Homo sapiens: one gene and its partners. The protein of the gene in region 3 interacts with the protein of the main gene of each other region in a pairwise test. Each region holds a gene or a part of one and is shown on either strand. Other genes may lie near its edges.

Region 1 (3,650 bases), on a different chromosome or scaffold from region 3:
GTATTGTATTCTTGAAAATTGGGATAAGAGCAGTTTTCTTTTTTTTTTGAGATGGAGTCTCGCACTGTTGCCCAGGCTGGAGTGCAGTGGTGCAGTCTTGGCTCACTGCAAGCTCCGCCTCCCGGGTTCACACTATTCTCCTGCCTCAGCCTCCCAAGTAGCTGGGATTACAGGTGCCCGCCACCACGCCTGGCTAATTTTTTGTATTATTTTTTTTCATTTGTGGGGTACAATGCAAAATGAAAATATGCGGCCCCTTGTTCAAAATTTATTAAACATTTCAAGATGATGACAACAGAGCATTAAATCAAATGCAGGTGAGAGAGGGGTAGACACATCCTAAGGTGCCCTGGGGTTCCGAGGAATACAGCATGAGAAACACTGAACGTAGAGCCTGAGACAAGGACCTGGGTCCAGGTGATTTACCTGACCCCAGGAAGCAGGAATGAGGGAGCAGGGAGGTAAGACAGGGAGGAGGAGAAGCCAATGTATGAGTAAGCTGTTGGGGTTGTTTCTGGGCATTATGGGATCATGATCCCACCAAACCTCCTGGGAATGCCCCAGAATCTCTGCCCGAAACACTGAGAGCTGAGGCATTTCTCCATCAACTCCCAACCCCATTGGTTGAAGGATGCCCCTGGGGGTGCTAGCTTTCTTGCATTTCTTTTTTTTTTTTTTTCTTCTGTTGTGTTTTTTTTGTTTTTGTTTTTGTTTTATTATACTTTAAGTTTTAGAGTACATGTGCACATTGTGCAGGTTAGTTACATATGTATACATGTGCCATGCTGGTGCGCTGCACCCACTAACTCGTCATCTAGCATTAGGTATATCTCCCAGTGCTATCCCTCCCCCCTCCCCCCACCCCACCATAGTCCCCAGAGTGTGATATTCCCCTTCCTGTGTCCATGTGATCTCATTGTTCAATTCCCACCTATGAGTGAGAATATGCGGTGTTTGATTTTTTGTTCTTGCGATAGTTTACTGAGAATGATGATTTCCAATTTCATCCATGTCCCTACAAAGGACATGAACTCATCATTTTTTATGGCTGCATAGTATTCCATGGTGTATACGTGCCACATTTTCTTAATCCAGTCTATCATTGTTGGACATTTGGGTTGGTTCCAAGTCTTTGCTATTGTGAATAATGCCACAATAAACATACGTGTGCATGTGTCTTTATAGCAGCATGATTTATAGTCCTTTGGGTATATACCCAGTAATGGGATGGCTGGGTCAAATGGTATACTTCAGCAAAGTCTCAGGATACAAAATCAATGTACAAAAATCACAAGCATTCTTATACACCAACAACAGACAAACAGAGAGCCAAATCATGAGTGAACTCCCATTCACAATTGCTTCAAAGAGAATAAAATACCTAGGAATCCAACTTACAAGGGACGTGAAGGACTTCTTCAAGGAGAACTACAAACCACTACTCAAGGAAATAAAAGAGGATACAAACAAATGGAAGAACATTCCATGCTCATGGGTAGGAAGAATCAATATCGTGAAAATGGCCATACTGCCCAAGGTAATTTACAGATTCAATGCCATCCCCATCAAGCTAACAATGACTTCACAGAATTGGAAAAAACTACTTTAAAGTTCATATGGAACCAAAAAAGAGCCCGCATCACCAAGGCAATCCTAAGCCAAAAGAACAAAGCTGGAGGCATCACACTACCTGACTTCAAACTATACTACAAGGCTACAGTAACCAAAACAGCATGGTACTGGTACCAAAACAGAGATATAGATCAATGGAACAGAACAGAGCCCTCAGAAATAACGACGCATATCTACAACTATCTGATCTTTGACAAACCTGAGAAAAACAAGCAATGGGGAAAGGATTCCCTATTTAATAAATGGTGCTGGGAAAACTGGCTAGCCATATGTAGAAAGCTGAAACTGGATCCCTTCCTTACACCTTATACAAAAATCAATTCAAGATGGATTAAAGACTTAAACGTTAGACCTAAAACCACAAAAACCCTAGAAGAAAACCTAGGCAGTACCATTCAGGACATAGGCATGGACAAGGACTTCATGTCTAAAACACCAAAAGCAATGGCAACAAAAGACAAAATTGACAAATGGGATCTAATTAAACTAAAGAGCTTCTGCACAGCAAAAGAAACTACCATCAAAGTGAACAGGCAACCTACAAAATGGGAGAAAATTTTCACAACCCACTCATCTGACAAAGGGCTAATATCCGGAATCTACAATGAACTCAAACAAATTTACAAGAAAAAAACAAACAACCCCATCAAAAAGTGGGCGAAGGACATGAACAGACACTTCTCAAAAGAAGACATTTATGCAGCCAAAAAGCACATGAAAAAATGCTCATCATCACTGGCCATCAGAGAAATGCAAATCAAAACCACAATGAGATACCATCTCACACCAGTTAGAATGGCAATCATTAAAAAGTCTGGAAACAACAGGTGCTGGAGAGGATGTGGAGAAATAGGAACACTTTTACACTGTTGGTGGGACTGTAAACTAGTTCAACCATTGTGGAAGTCAGTGTGGCGATTCCTCAGGGATCTAGAATTTTTTGTATTTTTAGTAGAGACGGGGTTTCACCGTGTTAGCCAGGATGGTCTCAATCGCCTGACCTCATGACTGGCCCGCCTGGGCCTCCTGACCTCATGACTGGCCCTCCTGGGCCTCCCAAAGTGCTGGGATTACAGGCGTGAGCCACCGCGCCCAGCCTTTACTAGTGAATTCTATTGAGCATATAAAGAAGAAATGATAGCAGTTATTTAATTCTTTTCAGAAAATTAAAAAAAAAGGAAAAAGTCTCAATTAATTCCATGAAGGAAAAAAATAAAAAGCATCTTGTATTTTGACGTGTATTTGTTTGCCAGTGGCTAAGCTGAGCAATGAAAAGCTGCACTGGTAAGTCTCAACACTAGAATACAGAGAATAGGAACCTATCAAACATGACTAGAGCTAATTGATCATCTCCACTACGTCAAATTTTTCTACTGCTCTGGATAAATTAATAAAAATGGGATTATCTCTTGCTACTTCTACATTCAATTATTCTTATAACTTCAGCAATTGATTCAGAAAAGCGGTCCTGCAGAGAACATTGTTAATATTAGAAAAAGCACAGCAACGCAGAGAAGGAAATAGCCTTCACTTTTCTTTAATCTCAGTGCTCAGGCTTCTTTCCACTTTTTACCTGAAGCAGCTCCATCACTGACCCCTGCAGCCGATGCTCCAGATCTGAGATGAGCTCTCTCAGGGACTGGGTCTGCTGCACCATCTCAGTTTCAGAGTTCGTAAGGCTTTTCAGAATGTCTTCCTCCTCCTTCTCCAGGTTTTGCAGCTCATTGCTCTCCTCCCAGTCCAGGATGTCTCTCAGTTGCTCAAAATCTGCCAAGACGTTGGTTTTGTCATACTGTATTTGAGTCTTCAGAGATAAGAGAAGAGAAAGGGGCACTCAGTCTACCAGGCAGAGGCTGTTAGCCAGAAAAGGAGCTGTTTCTTTTGGGGAGTTCTCACAAGGAGGGGACATAGTAGCAGGAGAGTAGGTCTTAGGAAAGCTGCCTTTTCCTATTTCTTTTCCTTCATGACATTTTAAAACAATGACCTTGAATGGGTATATTGAGGTTCATCCTGCATCA
Region 2 (3,650 bases), on a different chromosome or scaffold from region 3:
GGAGAGAGAGGGGAAGGAAGAGTGCAAGCTTGAGCCTGTGTGCCCCGCACCATGGCGTGGTTCTCTCCTCTGTTTGGCAGTGGTGGTCCTGCACAGCCTCACTGCAGGAGACTTGGTGGCTGCCTCCACTGGATGGGTAGCCATGGGCAGTGTACCCTCACACCAAGCTCCCTGAGGTCCTGCGTTGGACACGCTGTCCTGGGCCCTTCAAGGGGCTCCCCCACAGCCACAAAGAGCACTGGAAGGCTAGGCTCATGTCCGGATAACAACTGGGTGCAAAACCCACCTGTCCCCATCCTGTGCAGGCACCCTCCCACAGGGCCGTCACTGGGCTACACAGGTGGTCCCCAAGGCCCAGACAGCAGAGACAGCCAGACCACCCTGCACAGGGCCCTGCTGCACCAGGGTGGGCTCCCAGCAGTCCTGGGCCCCGCCTGTAAGGCTAAGCCCCTGACCCTCAGTTACCTGTCCTGGCATTCCTCTTTCTGGTGCCTCTCCAGGAGGGAGCGGGGAAACTGGCGCAGGCAGAAGCCACACTCTGAAGGCAGCTCGCTCACGGCTTTCTCCACGGCCAGGTTCCGGCAGCAGAGGCTCTTACTGATCTCACAACGACAATTGGGGCACGTGGCCTGCTCCTCCTTCAGCCGGGCATCTGCTAGTAGGTGGATAAAACAGCCAGCGCACATCAAGTGACCATTAGTACACTGCGAAGAAGGAAAGGGAGACGAAGCTCACAGACCTGCGGGCTCATGCTCGCACACACCCGCCCATGCCCATCAGCTCCAGCCAGGTGTCCTGAGGGACTCCAGCTGGTGCAGAGGGGCGCACGTGCCTGTCCCGAGTCGTGCTGGAGTGTGGTGAACACTGCGAGCTGCTCAGGAGAAACAGGCAGAGCCAGCTTGGGTTCTTGCAGAGATTAGAGGTCCTAAAAGCAAGGCCTCATCAGCTCACAGAGGTGACAGCTCGCCCTGGCAGTGACGGGTTCAGCCACCTGGGGCCGAGGGTCACGCTTTTCCCTTAGGGACCAGCGACTGCCCTGACCCCCCTACAGGTCCAGAGTTTGGGAGCCCTCCAGGAACACTGGGCTCTTGGCCATCACTGTCAGGTGGGGAGCGGATGCAGCTCCCACACTGGGGCAGGCATGCTCTCTGGGCCTTCAGAAAGGCCATTTATCCTGGGTTGAGAGGACTTGGCTCAGGGTGAGCCCAGGTGAGAGGAGGCAGCTGCCCCCTCGTCCAGGGAGGTTGGCTACCTGCAGAGACCTCCTCAGAGCTGGGAGGCAGGAGCCAAGCTGGCCCAGGACAAGGACAAGGGCAGGTAGGCACACAGGGAGTGCCTGGGGAGCAGAAATGGGGGCTCTGAGTGGGTGCCGAGCCTGCTGGGGTAACCGGGGCTGGCAGGAGCAGGGCACCTCCCGCTGGGCTCCCTGCCTGTGTGGGCTCCCAGCACGCCCAGTGGCCTATCCTGGCTCTCACTCCCTCAACATAAGCCTCGAGCGTCCACTTGGTGCCACTGAGAGACACATGGCAAGCTGCGGTCCCAGCCCGTGGGGGCTCACAGCATGGGAGGTGGGAAGCCCAGACCAGAACCAAGAGGTCCAAGAACAAACAAAGCCTTTTGTACCTGAGCAGACACAGTTCCCACAGCCCTGGCTGGAGTGGGGTGTGTGGGCTGAGGCATTCCAGGGCCAGCCAGGAGTGACAGGGATGTGATGTGCCTCCCACCCAAAGACTCTTAGAGCTCGCTGAGGGGAGCAGTCAGCAGAGTTGCTCCTGTCCTGATGCCTCTCCAGCAGCCGGCCCAGGCTTGCCAGCCATGCAAACCTCCAGAAAGCCACTGGGCTACAGGCTTCCTTTGGGACCTGGGACCCTCTTGAGAATGGGATGTGGTGCAGCAGAGCAGCCTGCCCAGGCCCAGCCTCTCTACAAGGTGTGTGTCAGGGAGGGGACACTCACAGGGCCCTGCCTGGTGGCGCTGGGAGGCCGGCCCTGCCTGGTGGTGCTGGGAGGCCAGCCCTGCACACGTGGGGCCCTGGGAAGTCTGAGCTGCCATCCTACTGCTTCAGCTGCCTGTGCACCCCAAGCTAAGGAGCTGTCAGACGCTGGGGCTGTTCACTCAGCACCTGTGGACTAGGCCTAAGGCCTGCTGAGTCAAAGGACCTACATGTGGAGAACCGACAGTGAGGACAAAGCCCTCTTTCATGGAATCCACATCCACATGAACACCACCCGTTACCTGCATTCAATCCTCAAGTTCTCAGTTTGGTTAAAAATTAAAATTACAGGCGGTGGCTCATGCCTGTAATCCCAGCACTTTGGAAGGCCGAGGCAGGCAGGTCACCTGAGGTTAGGAGTTCATGACCAGCCTGGCCAACATGGTGAAACCCCATCTCTACTAAAAATACAAAAATTAGCCATGCATGGTGGCGAGCGCCTGTAATCTCAGCTTCTCAGGAGGCTGAGGCAGGAGAATGGCTCGAACCCGGGAGGCGGAGGTTGCAGTGAGCCGAAATGGTGCCACTACACTCCAGCCTGGGAGACAGAGTGAGACTCTATCTCATGAATACATAAATAAATAAAAATTAAAACATACACAGTTGCCTGAGGCAGGGAGTGAGACTGGCTCTGACTGGGTTGGGGACAAGCTGAGACCTGCCCCCAGGAGAAGGTGTGAAAATCCGCCAGCCAAGTCCAGGGGTCAGTGGTGGGTGGACTACAGGCAGGAGGGGGCACAGATGCTATTGAAGCAGCTGTCCTGTGGGAGGCACAGACCAAGGGCCCACACCACTGTCCTCTCACAGCCCCCCGCCCCCCGGAGGTATGCCACTCCACGTGGCCAGCTCTAAACACCTCCTGGTGAGACTGCCGGGGGCCTTGGACGAGGTTCTGGGTCCAGCTCTGCACGTACAGTGGCCTTAGCACAGGCAAAACAGCACTCTTCTTGGCTGTGGCCCGACCCCCAAGGGAGTTCCAGGCAGGGCTGGAGCATCTAATGCCACCCACCAAGGCCACCTGGCCTCTCTTCCTGGCTCTGCATAGCCCAGGAAGATTCGAGGTGGGGTCCTAGACCCTCCTAAGGGAGCACTGAGGCTGCCAAGCACATCACCACTTACCTCCCAGCACTGCGGGCCTCTCCCCCGAAAGCCACCCCAGCTCCTGGGCCGGCCCCTGGCCACAGGCCTCATTCCTTTGGGGCCTCCAGATCCCAGCATGGGCTCAGTCAATTCCATACCATGAGGAGGCAGCAGTGACCCTGCCCTCCTCTGGCTCTCTCTGGGCCTCCAAGAGGACCTGCAAGCTCCGAGGAGACACAGGGCCATTGCCCCTTCAGCCCCAATAGCTCCATTCAAGTCAGAACACAGGGAGTCCCTAGAGTGCCCTGGACTACACTGGCCCAGTAGCCAAGGGACACAGCCACACTCACCCCCAGACCCTCCCCACTGGTCAAAGGACATCTCTAGGTGCATGGCCCGGTCCCGACCAACACTCAGCCCAGGAGGTCTGTCCACAGCAGGACGGTCCCTGGTCACATGCTCCGGAGCCTCCCCACCATCTGGGTCCCCTCAGCCCCTGCGCAAGACTCTGGCTCTACACCAAGGCCAGGCCACAGGCAGCTGCATCCTTGGCCCTGGCAGCATCTGGCCAGATGCA
Region 3 (3,650 bases):
TTCAGTATATTCTAGACTCTCTCAAATGTATCTCCTCACTCCTCCATTGTTATGAATGGATGGATGACTATGAATCTGAGGAAAAAATAAAAGTGGTACTATTTTCTTCAAGCCCTTTTTGTTTCGAATCCTTCTCTTTTTTTTTTTTTCCTGAGACAGGGTCGTTCTGTTGCCCAGGCTGGAGTGCAGAGGCACAATCTTGGCTCACTGCAACCTCCACCTTTCAGGTTCCAGCAAATCTTGTGCCTCAGTCTCCTGAGTAACTGGGTTTACAGGTGCCCACCACAATGCCCAGCTAATTTTTGTATTTTTAGTAGAGATGAGGTTTCACCATGTTGGTCAGGCTGGGCTTGAACTTCTGGCCTCAGGTGATCCGCCTGCCTCAGCCTCCCAAAGTGCTGGGATTACAGGCATAAGCCATTGCGCCTGGCCTCTCTTCTGGCTACTTTTTATTTGAGGCGGATTCTCACTCTGTTGCCCAGACTGGAGTGCAATGGTGCGATCTCGGCTGACTGCAACCTTCACCTCCCAGTTCCAGCAATTCTCCTACCTCAGCCTCCTGGGTAGCTGGGACTACAGGTGCGCGCCACCATGCCTGGCTAATTTTTTAATTTTTTTTTAAGTAGAGACAGGGTCTCAGCATGCTGGCTAAGCTGGTCTCAAACTCCTGACCTCAAATAATCTACCCGCCTCAGCCTCCCAAAGTAATGGGATTACAGGCATGAGCCGTTATGCCTCGTGGCTAGTTCTTTTTAATAGAATCCCATAGTGATTCATGCATGAGTTGAACTAAATGCCTGAATCACAGAACATATAACAATAATGAAATTTAAAGAAAAGTAGTGGAAAGAAAAAAAAAACTGACAGGTAAGAGAAGGGTACCTGAAGAAATTTTGTGACAATAACTGTCTATACCCAGAATTAGAAATGCCAGCTTCAAATATAGTTATAATAAATTTGGCTTCAGCACTACATAGGCTTTTCTTTTTCCTTCCTAAGAATTTTTTTTTTCTGATTAAACTCCAGATTAAACCATCTCTATAACCCATCATACAAAGTTCTTTGTTAATGGCCAAAATAATCTCTTAGGAGCAGTGTGAGGGCCCACAGATATTATATAAATAATGCTGGACTCGAGAGTCTCTAAAATCTTATTTCTATCCCTTATGTTACACGCTCTGACAACTTTCAATATATGACCACTTAGCATTAATCATAGCATTATTTGATCAGGGTAATACAACTAAGGAATCCTTATGATAACTATATTATTCATATTATAATAGTTTTTACTTTAAAACATTAACTTCTTGAAGAATAGCTTTTAATATTAAAAATTAACAATCTTTAAATTTAACTTAACCCAAAGAGGAGATGAGGAAGGAATGAGAATTTTTAAGCTGTCAACAATGATTCCATAAACCTAAAAGAAATTTTAGGAAGAAAAGCTCAAGAACTAAACTGTTCCTTTGTCATTGAATTATTAAGGCAAAAGAAGTGAAGAAAATTGAGTTAAGTAACATCCACAATATGGCATTTTCCCGTGAGTACTCTACTTCACAATCTGATTCTTTAAATACTACAAAAACAGCTGCCTCATTACTTAATAATGGTTATAAATTGCTTAACATTCCACATGTAAACTTTTGCTTTAGCATTTAAGTTTAGATTTTTAAAAACTCAAAAAACTGCAACATCCTTGCAATAAACATTTAACCTATCGTCACATTTAAAAGAAAAAGCATTAAAGTTTATGTCCTTGAATGGTGTTTTCCTTAACAAAATGAACTTCTCTCAATAGTTTTATATAAAATAACAGAATTCAAGTTACTCTACCTCAAATATATAAAAAGCATATTAAATCTAATCTTATCAAAATATTCATTTAGCAGCAGCAGCAGCAGAAATAAGCACTTTTTTTTTTTGAGATGCAGTCTCCCTCTGTCGCCCAGGCTGGAGTGCAGTGGTGCGATCTCAGCTCACTGCAACCTCCGTCTCATGGATTCAAGGGATTCTCCTGCCTCAGCCTCCTGAGTAGCTGGGATTATAGGCGCACGCCACCACACCCAGCTAATTTTTGTATTTTTAGTAGAGATGGAGTTTCACCACGTTGGTCAGGCTGGTCTTGAACTCCTGACCTCGTGATCCACCTGCTTCAGCCTCCCAAAGTGCTGGGATTACAGGCATCAGCCACCCCGCCCAGGCAGATATAAGCACTTTTAAATGACCAAACTTTTGGTCCCATTCTCGGTATCGGGAAAAAGAAAAGAAAAAAAATGACCAAACTTGTTTCTAACCAATAAAGAATATATCTTTTTTTTTTTTTTTTTTTTGAGACGGAGTCTTGCTCTGTTGCCCAGGCTGGAGTGCAATGGCACAATCTCGGCTCACTGCAAGCTCCGCCTCCCGGGTTCACACCATTCTCCTGCCTCAGCCTCCCAAGTAGCTGGGACTACAGGCGCCCACCATCACGCCTGGCTAATTTTTTTGTATTTTTAGTAGAGACGGGGTTTCATCGTGTTAGCCAGGACGGTCTCGATCTCCTGACCTCGTGATCTGCCCGCCTCAGCCTCCCAAAGTGCTGGGATTACAGGTGTGAGCCACCGCACTCGGCCATAAGAATATATCTTAATGTATCTTTTTTTTTTTCTTTTTGGGACAGAGTCTCGCTGTCGCCCAGGCTGGAGTGCAGCAGCGCGATCTGGGCTCACTGAAGGCTCCGCCTCCCGGGGTTCACGCCATTCTCCTGCCTCAGCCTCCCGAGTAGCTGGGACCACAGGCGCCCACCACCTCGCCCGGCTAATTAGTGTATCTTAATATATCTTAATGTATATAAGTATACATTATCCAATTAAAAAAATTAATCTACCTATTAAATATTGCTTCTATCTAATTTAGCTCAGGAAGTGCCTTGTTTATAAAAATCAATGAAAAAATTTAAAACTTTGCTGACAGACCTCTAGAATAATGTCACTGCCCTACTATCTTCCAAAAATACTTCAAAACAACCTAAAAAAAAATTCAAGAATAACTATAAGGTCTGACTTCAAGAAGAAGCTAGTATATTATTATATAAAAACATCTGCTATTAGGACAAGCATCTGATTTTTTAAAGATAACTAAAGGTCTCCTCTACATTTAATGATTGCAAAAAGGACTAAATGAAACAGCATCCATGAAAACTGCCAGACCAAGCCAAGCAGATAGGAAGCACTCGATAAACAGCATAAAAAATTAAATATCTAGAAATGGCTCGTATGAACTATAAAACAAAAAATAAAATTTTATCACTTAAGAATTGGTACAAGGTTGGGCACAATGGCTCATGCCTAGAATCCCAAGACTTTGGGACACCAAGGCAAGAGGATTGTTTTAGGCCAGGGGTTTGAGACCAGCCTCGGTAACTTGGCAAGATGCCATCTCTCCAATAAAGAAAGAAAAAAATGGGCTGGGTGCGGTGCGGTGGCTCACGCCTGTAATCTCAGCACTTTGGGAGGCTGAGGTGGGCAGATCACAAGGTCAGGAGTTCAAGACAAGCCTGGCCAATATGGTGAAACCCCGCCTCTACTAAAAATACAAAAATTAGCCGGGCATGGTGGCGGGCGCCTGTAGTACCAGCTACTCGGGAGGCTGAGGCAGGAGAATTGCTT

Evidence for each region.
Region 1: the proteins of UBE2K (region 3) and TRIM5 interact in binary tests that used the Homo sapiens proteins (3 or more experiments, as listed by UniProt).
Region 2: the proteins of UBE2K (region 3) and ZFTRAF1 interact in binary tests that used the Homo sapiens proteins (3 or more experiments, as listed by UniProt).

Annotation. Positions count from the first base shown.
Region 1 is NC_000011.10:5,674,999-5,678,648, forward strand, and holds part of TRIM5 (tripartite motif-containing protein 5), read right to left. Parts: intron 3,437-3,650; coding exon 3,206-3,436; intron 1-3,205.
Region 2 is NC_000008.11:144,452,757-144,456,406, forward strand, and holds part of ZFTRAF1 (zinc finger TRAF-type-containing protein 1), read right to left. Parts: intron 705-3,650; coding exon 466-704; intron 1-465. Other genes in the region: TMEM276-ZFTRAF1 (uncharacterized protein LOC157542 isoform 1 precursor), read right to left, coding at 466-704.
Region 3 is NC_000004.12:39,739,546-39,743,195, reverse strand, and holds part of UBE2K (ubiquitin-conjugating enzyme E2 K), read right to left. Parts: intron 1-3,650. UniProt on the Homo sapiens protein: Accepts ubiquitin from the E1 complex and catalyzes its covalent attachment to other proteins. In vitro, in the presence or in the absence of BRCA1-BARD1 E3 ubiquitin-protein ligase complex, catalyzes the synthesis of 'Lys-48'-linked polyubiquitin chains.